Linked DNA regions of Homo sapiens. The protein of the gene in region 1 interacts with the protein of each later gene in a biochemical or structural test. Each region holds a gene or a part of one and is shown on either strand. Other genes may lie near its edges.

Region 1 (3,496 bases):
ATAACCCAGACGACTTGTTTCTGTGATTTCTCAATCTTAGCAGCACTGTGCCTTCTTTAGAGAGGAGGAACATCAACCACTAGAGATGAGGCAGTAAAGTGCCCCCACATCAAAAAATGCAGCTCCTCTTTCCCAACATTTTTTAGAACCTTCTCATGAACTGTACTTTTAAGTAAAGCACATCTCGAAGCTTCTATTTCCCTGTCCCTATACACAGCAAGTGGCATATGCTGCAGAGAAGTCAAAGAAAATGTTTGTGAAAAACATTTCTTCCATATTAAGTACCAGACCGCCTGGGCATTCTTGACAATAAACTCTGGGGAAAGAAGCTATTTGTGCTTGGTCCTGCTGGCCGGTTCCTTGGTGAAGAGTTCTGATGGCATAATGCTCAGCAGTAGTCCCACAATAATTTGGGAAGTGTTGCCAGTATTTAGAGAACCCCGTAAATGAAATTAGACCAGTGTTCAAGCCAATCCATGCCAAGGAGCCAAGAGGAATAATTAAAGGAGTGAATGTTTTATTCTTTAGTGTTTAATTGAATACATAACAAGTCACATAATCAATGATTCATTACTTCACACACAGGAAGGAAAACAGTAGCTAGTATTTCTGTTATACAACTGGTTGTGAACAGGAAGAACAAAAATCTTTATAGCATTAGATGGTTGAAGAAATTCTCAAAGTTTGGGCATGTCTGAAAAGACTTTGACTGCATCTTTTTTCAATATAAAGGGATTTTTTTCTTACATTTCTGTGTCATTAGAAAAATCTGATAATCTTATAAGATTTTTTCTGCTCTTCTTACATTTAGAGAAAATGGTTTAATGATATGTACTATTTAAAAAATCAGAATCCCAGATAACTCTGTGTGAATCTTACATTGTCTAGCAGATAAGGTTTTCAGATGCCTGGAAAAATTTAAACAACATATAATTTACATCTTCAAAATTAACATCCAGATGGATGTTTTAATCCTTTGTCACTAAATGGTTACTAACGCTGTTTGAGTGGTCATAAATGAATTGTCATTTGTATTCAATAGTAATAGCAAAATTTACCTGCCTATAAAGTCGCAAAAACAGTTGTATAATAGTTTACATTACAATTAATGTACCCATACCTCAAAACACATTTAGAATTTAAAAAAACTGGCTTGGAAAAAAATCACAAAAAATTTAAGTGACAACAAATCTTGATTAACTAGTCCATCTTCCTACCACACATGATTATACTCTAATGTAGATATTCTGGTTGAATTTCTTCCAACCAAGTTTGAAGGGCCCCAGTAGAAAATCAAGTGTTAATACTTTCAGATTTTTATTGTCCAAAACTGTTGACAAAGAAAAGCTAACTTCAACATAACTTGTTTCTGGCTATACAAAGACCTATTTCAGGTGCTACAGATACTGAAAATAGGAGTATTTTACTTATTTCTCAAGAGACAGACTTATGCCATCTAAGAAAATGAATTCAGTTTTTAAATGATTTATAGTAAGGAAAAACAGGAAAACAATTCCAAACGAAGGATTGACTCTGATAGGCTTACAACAAAAATATTCAGTTTACTATTTTAAAAACTAAATTGAGTAAAGTATTTGTGATTTAGACTATAAAATAAATTCTCAAGGAATTCAACCCCTCCAGTCAATACTTTTTCTTAATGTCTGCATTGTAATTTAGCATTTTGCATGTGGGAGTACACAAATGAATTGAATATTGGATCAGAATTTACCCTAACTTGAAGAGTAAAAAGTTATCAAAGTTTCACCTTACATGGCTTTATTGAAATAACATTCCATCGAAAATTCCAATAAAAATTGGAATATATTATGAGCACTGCCAATTGCTCATTTTGTCTGATATTAACAGATTATGCATTTCCTCAGAGAAGCAGTAGGTCCCATATATACAGACATATATATGGCTCTGGTTTGAAAGAGAAGACAATTTTGTCTAGTATTATGATTTATCACTGTGCTATCAATCAAAAACCAGTAGAATACATAACAACATTGAAAGGGAAAAATTTTTAAATCTCACATCTTCAAGGAATATTTTCTACAGCATATCATTTGAAAAAGTAGAATGAATACTGTTCATGGTCCACATGTATTAAAAAACATGTCAATTACTTGGTGCAAACACACAGAACCTGGTACCTGTTTTTTTTTTTTTTTTAACCACCATTGTCTACACCTTTTTAAAAATTAAGTTTGTTACTAAAAGTCCAATGTCATTCACTTGTATTTATGATCATCAAATGGTAATTAGGGCAACATATGTAAATGCATGCCTCTGAATCAGATTCATGCAGTGTTAATTATCTGAATAATTTATGACATTCTCCCAGGTTATTTGAATGGTATCTTTGGAGGGCTTACTCAAATGAACCCACAATACCTCCACTATTACAGCTTATAGGAAATTACAATCCACTTTACAGGCCTCAAAGGTTCATTCTGTGGCCCAAAGCCCATGGAGGGGAAGGGATCTAAAGGTGCTCATGTCAAGTTATTTTACTTGTTTTTTACTGTCTACCCAATGTAAAATGAATTTTCTTCACAGCCTTTACTTTAGGCTAAAAATAGACAGTTTTCTTGTATTGACTTTAACTTTAGAGGGGACAGTCGTCCCTGGAAAAAGAAGTAGATTTACTGTCCCTAACCATTAAATTCCCAGTCTTTCAAATAATGTGCGGGGCGGGGGGTGCTGGGTGTGACAGGGTGCAGTGAATAAGATGCCTATGTACAAGACAGTGGAATAGTTCACCTCAAAGGTTTACAAGATAACATTTGTAAGACTTGAGTGACAGAGGCAAAATTTTAGCAGTTTCTCAAGACTCTTGGAGTTGAGCAGATTTGAGAAGGGAAATCAGAATCGCCGAGCCTTGCCATCTGTCAGTGGTTTTGGTCTGTCCCAAGATGTTCTCAATCATGTGCTTCCTGTTGAACAATCTAACAAAATACCATACGGGGTAGAGAAATCTCTGCAACACTGACTTTTGGTCAGTGAATCAGAGTCCTAAATTATTTCAGGCTTCAAACAGATGAATTCTGATGCATTACTTAGTCTGAGACCAAACTCAACATACAAGCAAGCACAACTTCCTAGATTTCTGCTTCCATTTCGCCTAAAATTACAGGCTTTGTATATGAAGTCAATTTTACTTCTCAAAAAATGTTAGTCTAATAAAAGACCTGAAATCTATTTCCCAACTAAAAAAAAATTAGTGGATTAAAAATACAGGTACCTTGACTTTAAGTAGACAGTTAATCAACATATGATTAGTAATACAACTAATACTCAAGAAAAAAAGTATAATACAGCAAACTCAGTTTTACAATTATGTATTTTTTCCTAACCCAATTCCTCGATAAGGATGTAAGAAACTCATCAAAACATGTTGCTTTAGTATATAAACCAGCTGATGCAAATTACTGGGGTAATATAGGAAATTTTATAGCATTAGTAAATGAATTAAAAAACTAAATGATTC
Region 2 (7,051 bases), on another chromosome or scaffold:
AGAAGAATGTGAGAAAGTACTCTGAGAGAAAATAATCAGGAAAGTCACTGTGGATGAGGCGATCAGTGAAGGTTCTGCAAGGAGGTGGTATTTCTGCTGACTTCTGAAGGAAGATGATAAGCCAACCCATTGAGGAGATGAAGAGAACAATATTCTAGGATACTGAATATGTGACACTCTGAGGCAAAAAAGAACTTGGAGCTTTCAAAAAGTAAAGGAGATATTTGAGAGGGAAGAATGCTACAACATGAAATTGGAGAGAGGGGGAGGCCCAAAACATGCAATACCCACAGGCTGTTTTACAAAGTTTTGGTTTTCTACAAATTACAATGAGAAGTTATTGAAGGTTTTAAATAGGAGAATGATAGGAATCCACTTGTATTTTAAAAATATCTTTCTAGCTACAGTATGGAGAATACTACTCCTGCATAGTTATGAACACAGGAAATCATTTAAAACTGAGATAATTAAACATTTTTGTGCTCTTGACTCATTTGTCTGTCTGCTCAAGCCTATGGTCTCCTTCTTAGAATCATGTTTTTAAATTACAAAAGAAACTAATTATATTGACATGAGGGTCATTAGAATATTTTTGTAAAACATTTTAAATAATATTATTTAAAATATCAATTTTTAAAAATATATGTGATGTAGTTATACATAGGTACTCCTTTGTTAACTGATTATGTAAGATCTAATAGGTCTACAATCATAAGGTGGATGAACAGAAATGCAGTGTTGAGGTGTCTGCAATGAATATAATGTGATTGAAAGTATCTGGTATCTATCAGTGGCCAAGTCACATGTACTGCTAGGGCTACTGCAGTGTGTTGTCTATATTTATAATGAGAGGAAATGTTAAATTTCCATTTGAGGTTAGTGAAAAATAAAGATGTAAATTTTTTGTATTATTTGAAGTTCACATACCACCCCCCGAATTCGATCTGTGGAACCCTGGGGTAATCCAAATTAATTGCCTTTATTTACAAAGTTATTTTAGTAATCACAAAGAGAGAAGACTGCAGTATGAACTGGGGTAGCTGCAATAGATATAACAGGAAGGGAGCCAAATTTGAGATATCTTTGGAGGAAGAATCAACAGGACAGAAAAGGGAGAGATTTTCTGGAGTTATTGGGGAAATCTTCATGGAAGAAGTAGGCATACGAATGTAGAAGAAGCTGTGTGCAAAATGTTAGCAGGGATTGTCAGAAAGCAGAAAGATCTGCTAGGCACACGATTGCTGTGACTCATTATAAGGCACAGGACAAGGAAGACAGCCACAGGTTAGAAAGGAGGAATGTTCATGAAGATTAAGTCAGGGACATTGAGACTCACAACTCAGTAGCTCAGGAGCTGTGGGACCTGGGGCAAACACTTAATGAAGCCTCCACTTCACATATTTAAGATGAGAATGATAATAGCTTGTGACCCATAATGTTGTTGTAAGGATTAAATAAGATACCGTATGTAAAGTGGTTAGCACAGTTCTGACACATAGCAAGGGCTGATAAATATTAGCAATTATTCTAATTACTGCTGGGATTCTGACACTGTTGGAGCATTGCCCACAGGAGATTGCAGTCTTGTTGAGGAAACAAGATAAAACACATAATATATTTTAAGAAGGAAACCATTCAGAATCAAATGTTCAAATATAAAGATATGAGCAGCTCTAAGTTATTAAATTTTCCTAGTATAGTACTTCCTGTATCATAAAAAGATTTTGAATATTCATGCTACATAGTTGTATGTGAGTGTTGCAAACGGGTAGGGATGAACGGTGCTGCTTCTCCTCGTAACAAATGAGTTTTAGATATCACTGATTTACTGTCTCCACTGCCTAACAGCTAAGCTCCTGTTTGGTGTAACAATGACTATCGCTCAAACAAGAAGAAAGAATGAAGAAAAAAAGTGATCTCAATTCAGTCTGAAAGTCTGTCCTTTGTTTTCATGTGGGAGAGCTAAGACATAAACAGGCTGTTTCCTTTCATTTTGTCATAGAAGCATTTCATAAAGAATTTCAATTTCAACCTTTGGAACAAAGCCCACATTTGAGTAGTTTATATGCAGATGGCTGTGGCTTAATGGCAACACATTCGAGTTCAAGTTCTTTTTCTGCTGTGTGCTTTGCTCTATGATATTGAACAACTTATATAATCTGCTGAGCCTCAATTTTTCATCTATAAAAAGAGGATAATAATTCTTACCTCAGGATTACTGTGAAGATCAAAAGAGGAAATTTAACTCAATGTCTGGAACAAAATAAGGATAAAATAAAAATATTTTTGTAAGTACTGTAATGTCTATTAAAAAGTGAGACTGATTTTTACATACATATCATGTATTGGGTTGACTAGTGTCCCCTAAAATTTATGCCCACCTGGAATCTTAGAATGTGGCCTTACTTGGAAATAGGGTATTTGTAGATGTAATCAAATTAAGAGGAATCATACTGGATTAGGGTAACTCTAACTGGTGAGATGGGAAATTTGGTCACACAGAGAGGAGAATGCCACATAAAGACACAGACACTCAGGAGAGAATTCCATGTGAAAATAGAGACAGAGATTGGAGTGATATGTCTATAAGCCAAGGGATACCAAAGATTGCCAGCAACCACCAGGCACTAGGAGAGAAGCATGGAACAGATTCTCGCTCAGACCCTCCAGAAGGGACCAACCAAGCTGATGCCTTGATTTCAAACTGCTAGTCTCTAACAGAATAAATTTCTGTTGTTTTAAGTTACCCAGTTTGTGAGGACTTGTTCAAGACAGCCAGAGGAAACAAATACACAAACCAATACCTGTACCTCTTTGTGTCAATTAGGGTTGGCTAGATGTTGTGGTAGTAACAGAAGGTGCCCTACCCTTCATTCTTAGGGGTTTGCAATAGCACAGTCACACTTCTCACTCCTACCATATGTCAATCATAAATCAGCTGCCACTCCACACCATGTCACCTTCATCAGGGATGCTGGCAGATGGAGCAGCCTCTGTCCAGAATGTTGCTTCTATCTGTTCTGTGGCAAAGGGAACAGAGACCCCAAAAATTCAACGGTTTATGGGATGAGAAGAGGAAACTGATTTCTCTACCCAACCAGTAAATCATAAAGTTGAAGTAGCCTTAAGTAAAAAAGGCCAGGCACAGTGACTTACACCTGTAATCCCAGGACTCCGGAAGGTGAGGCGGGAGGATGGCTTGAGGTCAGGCGTTCAAGACCAGCATGGGCAAAATAGCAAGAACATTTTTGAAAAACCAGCTAGGCATGGTGGCATGCACCTGTAGTCCCAGCTACTCAGGAGGCTGAGGCAGGAGTGACAAAGCTTTAATCAACTCAGCCCTGGGACAAGAAACAAATCAAGGATATTGCCACTATGCCATTTGTTAAAACCTCTGCATCAATTAAGAGGGTTCCTCATAAATTATTTCAGTCGGACGAAGTGGTATAGAGGAAGGGACATGGCAAACTGTGCATTGGCTCCTAAAGTTTCTGCCCATAATTGATCCACATAAATTCTGCTCACATCTCTCTGGCCAGAGCAAGCTTATGTCACTGGGCAAGTCTGATGTCATCATGTGGGCATGTATGTCCCACTTGTAGGAAGGGGCAGTGACTATCTTTAGTAATAATATAATTCACCCAAATCTTAAATTAGATTATCCTTTCAGTAGTTGCTTTGATATCCTTTCAGTAGTTACTTGACAGGCGTTCGTAGTAGTACAGTGGTGTTGCTTTCATGTGGAAATGTGTTATTTTATGTAAAAATTTGACCCCAAATGGCATTCCCCAGGTTGATCATTTACCTAGTCCCCAGATGTAGCTATAGATGACTTTTAGTTTATTTCCTGAAACTAAATCCACGCTCTAATGTAGTAAAAATTTCCTCTGGTGAAGATGGTTGAAGGAAGGTACTACAGGGAACTCATAACAAGCAGCTACAAATATGTTGTAAGAAATGACAGCATCGCCAGAATCAGTGACGACCTCCCAGTGAAATATCACTAAAGGGCACAATGCTTGGTTAAAGTCACAGGTATAAATTTTAATATATATGAAGTATAAAAATATGTTCTATATAGTGTGTGTATACATAGATATATCTCCTGCTGCATCTGCTTAAAAAGGGAAATTGACATGGTTTTAGGCATCCCTAGCACAATTCCTGAAGCAGAGAGTCACGACTACAAAATGATAATAATGGCTAGCCTGTGTGGAAAGCTTGCTATGTGCCAGACACTAAATGATTTACAGGGATTTTTTCATTTAACCCTTGTTACCAGGGCTGGGACCAGGGTGGGGCAATGAGATATCGGAGCACAAAAGTGAAGGAGGGCCGGGCACAGTGGCTCACGTCTGTAATCCCAGCACTTTCGGAAGCCGAGACAGGTGGATCACTTGAGTCCAGGAGTTCAAGACCAGCCTGGCCAACGTGGTGAAACCCTGTCTCTACCAAAAGTACAAAAAATTAGCCAGGCACCATGGCACACACCTGTAGTCCCAGCTACTAGGGTGGCTGAGGCAAGATAATTGCTTGAACCCAGGAGGCAGAGGTTGCAGTGAGCCAAGATCAAGCCACTGCACTCCAGCCTGGGCAACAGAGCGAGACTGCATCTCAAAAAAAAAAAAAAAAAAAAAAAAAAAACAAATGAAGGAGACAGCCACCTGCGGGGCTATGGAAGTGCAGGGTTGACACCTGCATGCCCCTGCCAGCGAGTGCCTCCTTCGGTTCTGCACCCTAAGTGCCTCACTCACCTTAACCTAGTCCCAGACTTGCTGGCAACAATCCTGTAAGGTCAGTGTCGTCAACTTTCTTCTTTGCAGATGAGGAAGCAGAAGCTTTTAGAGGCTGAGTATCTTGCTTCATGGAGCAAGGATTTGATGCCAGGACATTGGGCTCTAAAGCCTTGGGCCTTGACTGACTGTACCAGACTCCAGTGTTGGTTGTTTTTGTCTCCCTTTCCAGGTGTCCAAGGCAGCTGCAGATTTGATGGCCTACTGTGAAGCACATGCCAAGGAAGACCCCCTCCTGACCCCTGTTCCGGCTTCAGAAAACCCGTTTAGGGAGAAGAAGTTTTTCTGTGCCATCCTTTAAGTCTTTGAGAGGGGCCTGAAGAGCCTCCGGGCTCCTGGGACATTGATGTAGAGTTTTTAGTGAAGTGGGCACCTTTCTAGTCCACGGCATTTGAAGAGAGCGAGGAGAACCATTCTGGAAACTCTAGGCTATGCATGTTTAAAGATCTGGTCCCCTTTATGAGAATGCAAGCCGATCCACATCCTGACTTAAGAGATCTGATTCTGACGAACTGCCTGGAGGAGGGGAATATATAAAAATAAAATTGGTGTCACTTCTTTTCTGCTATCCCCCAGCCCCCCCCCCAAAATCCTCATGTTTCTGCTTCATATTTTGAAAAATAACAATTAAAACAGACAGCTGTACTGAGGTAAGATATGTGTGACCTTCTTGGAATGAATATTGTCTTTAGAATACCCTTTGATAAGCTGAGCTGTCCCGTGTAGATGCAATTCGGTTTAATGGCATTGATGTATAGTCACTGTGCCTTTCTTTTTCTTTCTTCCTTCTCCTCTACCCCTCCTTCCACCCCTCCCCATTAGAGTAGTGTGGAGATAAGGCTGGACTGGTCTATCAGATTGAACTCCAAGAATGATCACACAAAATGTTTAGGGAGATGTTCCCCGTGGTGTATCCTCATGGTAACAACGACAAAAAATGCCGGTTGTCTGTGTTCTCTTTTCACTATTCCTAACATGTGTACATGATAGCTTTGATTCTGCAAGTAAAAGTAAATCCTGTGTTGTGACTGGTGCTTTCATATATTTGTGACAATTTTTGAGTAATATTGCATGAAAATGTCCCTATGTTACATCCATTCAGAAGTTTTGTTGTTTTACTCTAAAGCTGGGAAAGGAAATGAGAGGGAAAAGACCCCGGAGAGGGAAGAAAATCTCAGTATTTTGAAAATTGAGATTACTTCAGAGCCTTAGCCACACCTAAAATACCTCCTAGTTAATAGTGGTATAAATGCCTCTTCAATACGTTTTCCAGAATCCAAAGCATTTTGGTTTATCCAGGACCCAGGGCAGCACAGCTGTCACCAAGCAGGAGAGTTAAGGATTCACCATGAGCTGGGAAATGCTTTTGCCATGAGTATGAGCAAATTCCCTCTTTCCCTGAATCATGGACATTCTAGATTAAAAGAACATTTTTTTGTGCTCTTAACAAGAAAACCATGGCCCTCCTTTGTTCAAGTATCAGAAGAAATAAACCCACAGCTCCAGAGAAGGTGACCATTCTCAGAACTCCAGCTATTCACTCTCCAGGGAGAAGGACCTCAAATCGCCACTCTTTGGGCGGCAGGTGCGGTCCCCACGGCCGGCTCTACGAGGAAGAGTTCTGGCTCTTTTGTCCACTGAGATGGTCTTGGTTTTTCACTTAACAAATTTTTTAATGGAATCTTTGTTTTTGTTCTCCATCTTGTTTGTTAGAGTCTCTCGGCCTTTATTTACAAATTCCTTGCAACTAGAGCGCTCCTTCCCCAAGATATGGTAGTGAGAGTAATTTTTCATTGTAGCTGTAGTCTCCATCAGTAACAGCAGGCCCTGGAAGACTTGATCACCTTTTTCTGTGTCATTTTCAGTCAAAGAGGGCCTCTCTTACATCTTGTTTGCTTTCAAATCCCCAAATATCATCTCCATCTCCCAATTAATTTTATTGTCTCTTTCCTCTCTATTCGCTTTCTCCTGTTTTTTTTTTAAAAAAAAAGCATGAAAAAGGAAGAGAAAAAGTTTGATATGCCAAGGACAGATTTTGAAACAGACTTGGTAAATGTTTTCCTTAGCTCCTTCATGGGCATGCTGGTGAAAGAATAAATACATCCAATTAAAGCTCATGCTGGGGTCGGGGAGAAGAGGATACTGAAACATTTGTGAAATGTATGAATGCACTTCTGTAACCAGATACTTCTGTTCTTCTGTTCAAATTGTGGGGTTTTTGTTACAGTTAGGACGCCCATGAAGATTTAGGGGTGAAA

Evidence for each region. The genes of interacting proteins can lie anywhere in the genome.
Region 2: the proteins of KCTD12 (region 1) and GNG2 form a complex in vitro, tested with the Homo sapiens proteins (one study listed by BioGRID).

Annotation. Positions count from the first base shown.
Region 1 is NC_000013.11:76,879,675-76,883,170, forward strand, and holds the end of KCTD12 (BTB/POZ domain-containing protein KCTD12), read right to left. Parts: 3' UTR 501-3,496; downstream 1-500. UniProt on the Homo sapiens protein: Auxiliary subunit of GABA-B receptors that determine the pharmacology and kinetics of the receptor response. Increases agonist potency and markedly alter the G-protein signaling of the receptors by accelerating onset and promoting desensitization.
Region 2 is NC_000014.9:51,961,594-51,968,644, forward strand, and holds part of GNG2 (guanine nucleotide-binding protein G(I)/G(S)/G(O) subunit gamma-2 precursor), read left to right. Parts: intron 1-4,965; coding exon 4,966-5,094; 3' UTR 5,095-7,051. UniProt on the Homo sapiens protein: Guanine nucleotide-binding proteins (G proteins) are involved as a modulator or transducer in various transmembrane signaling systems.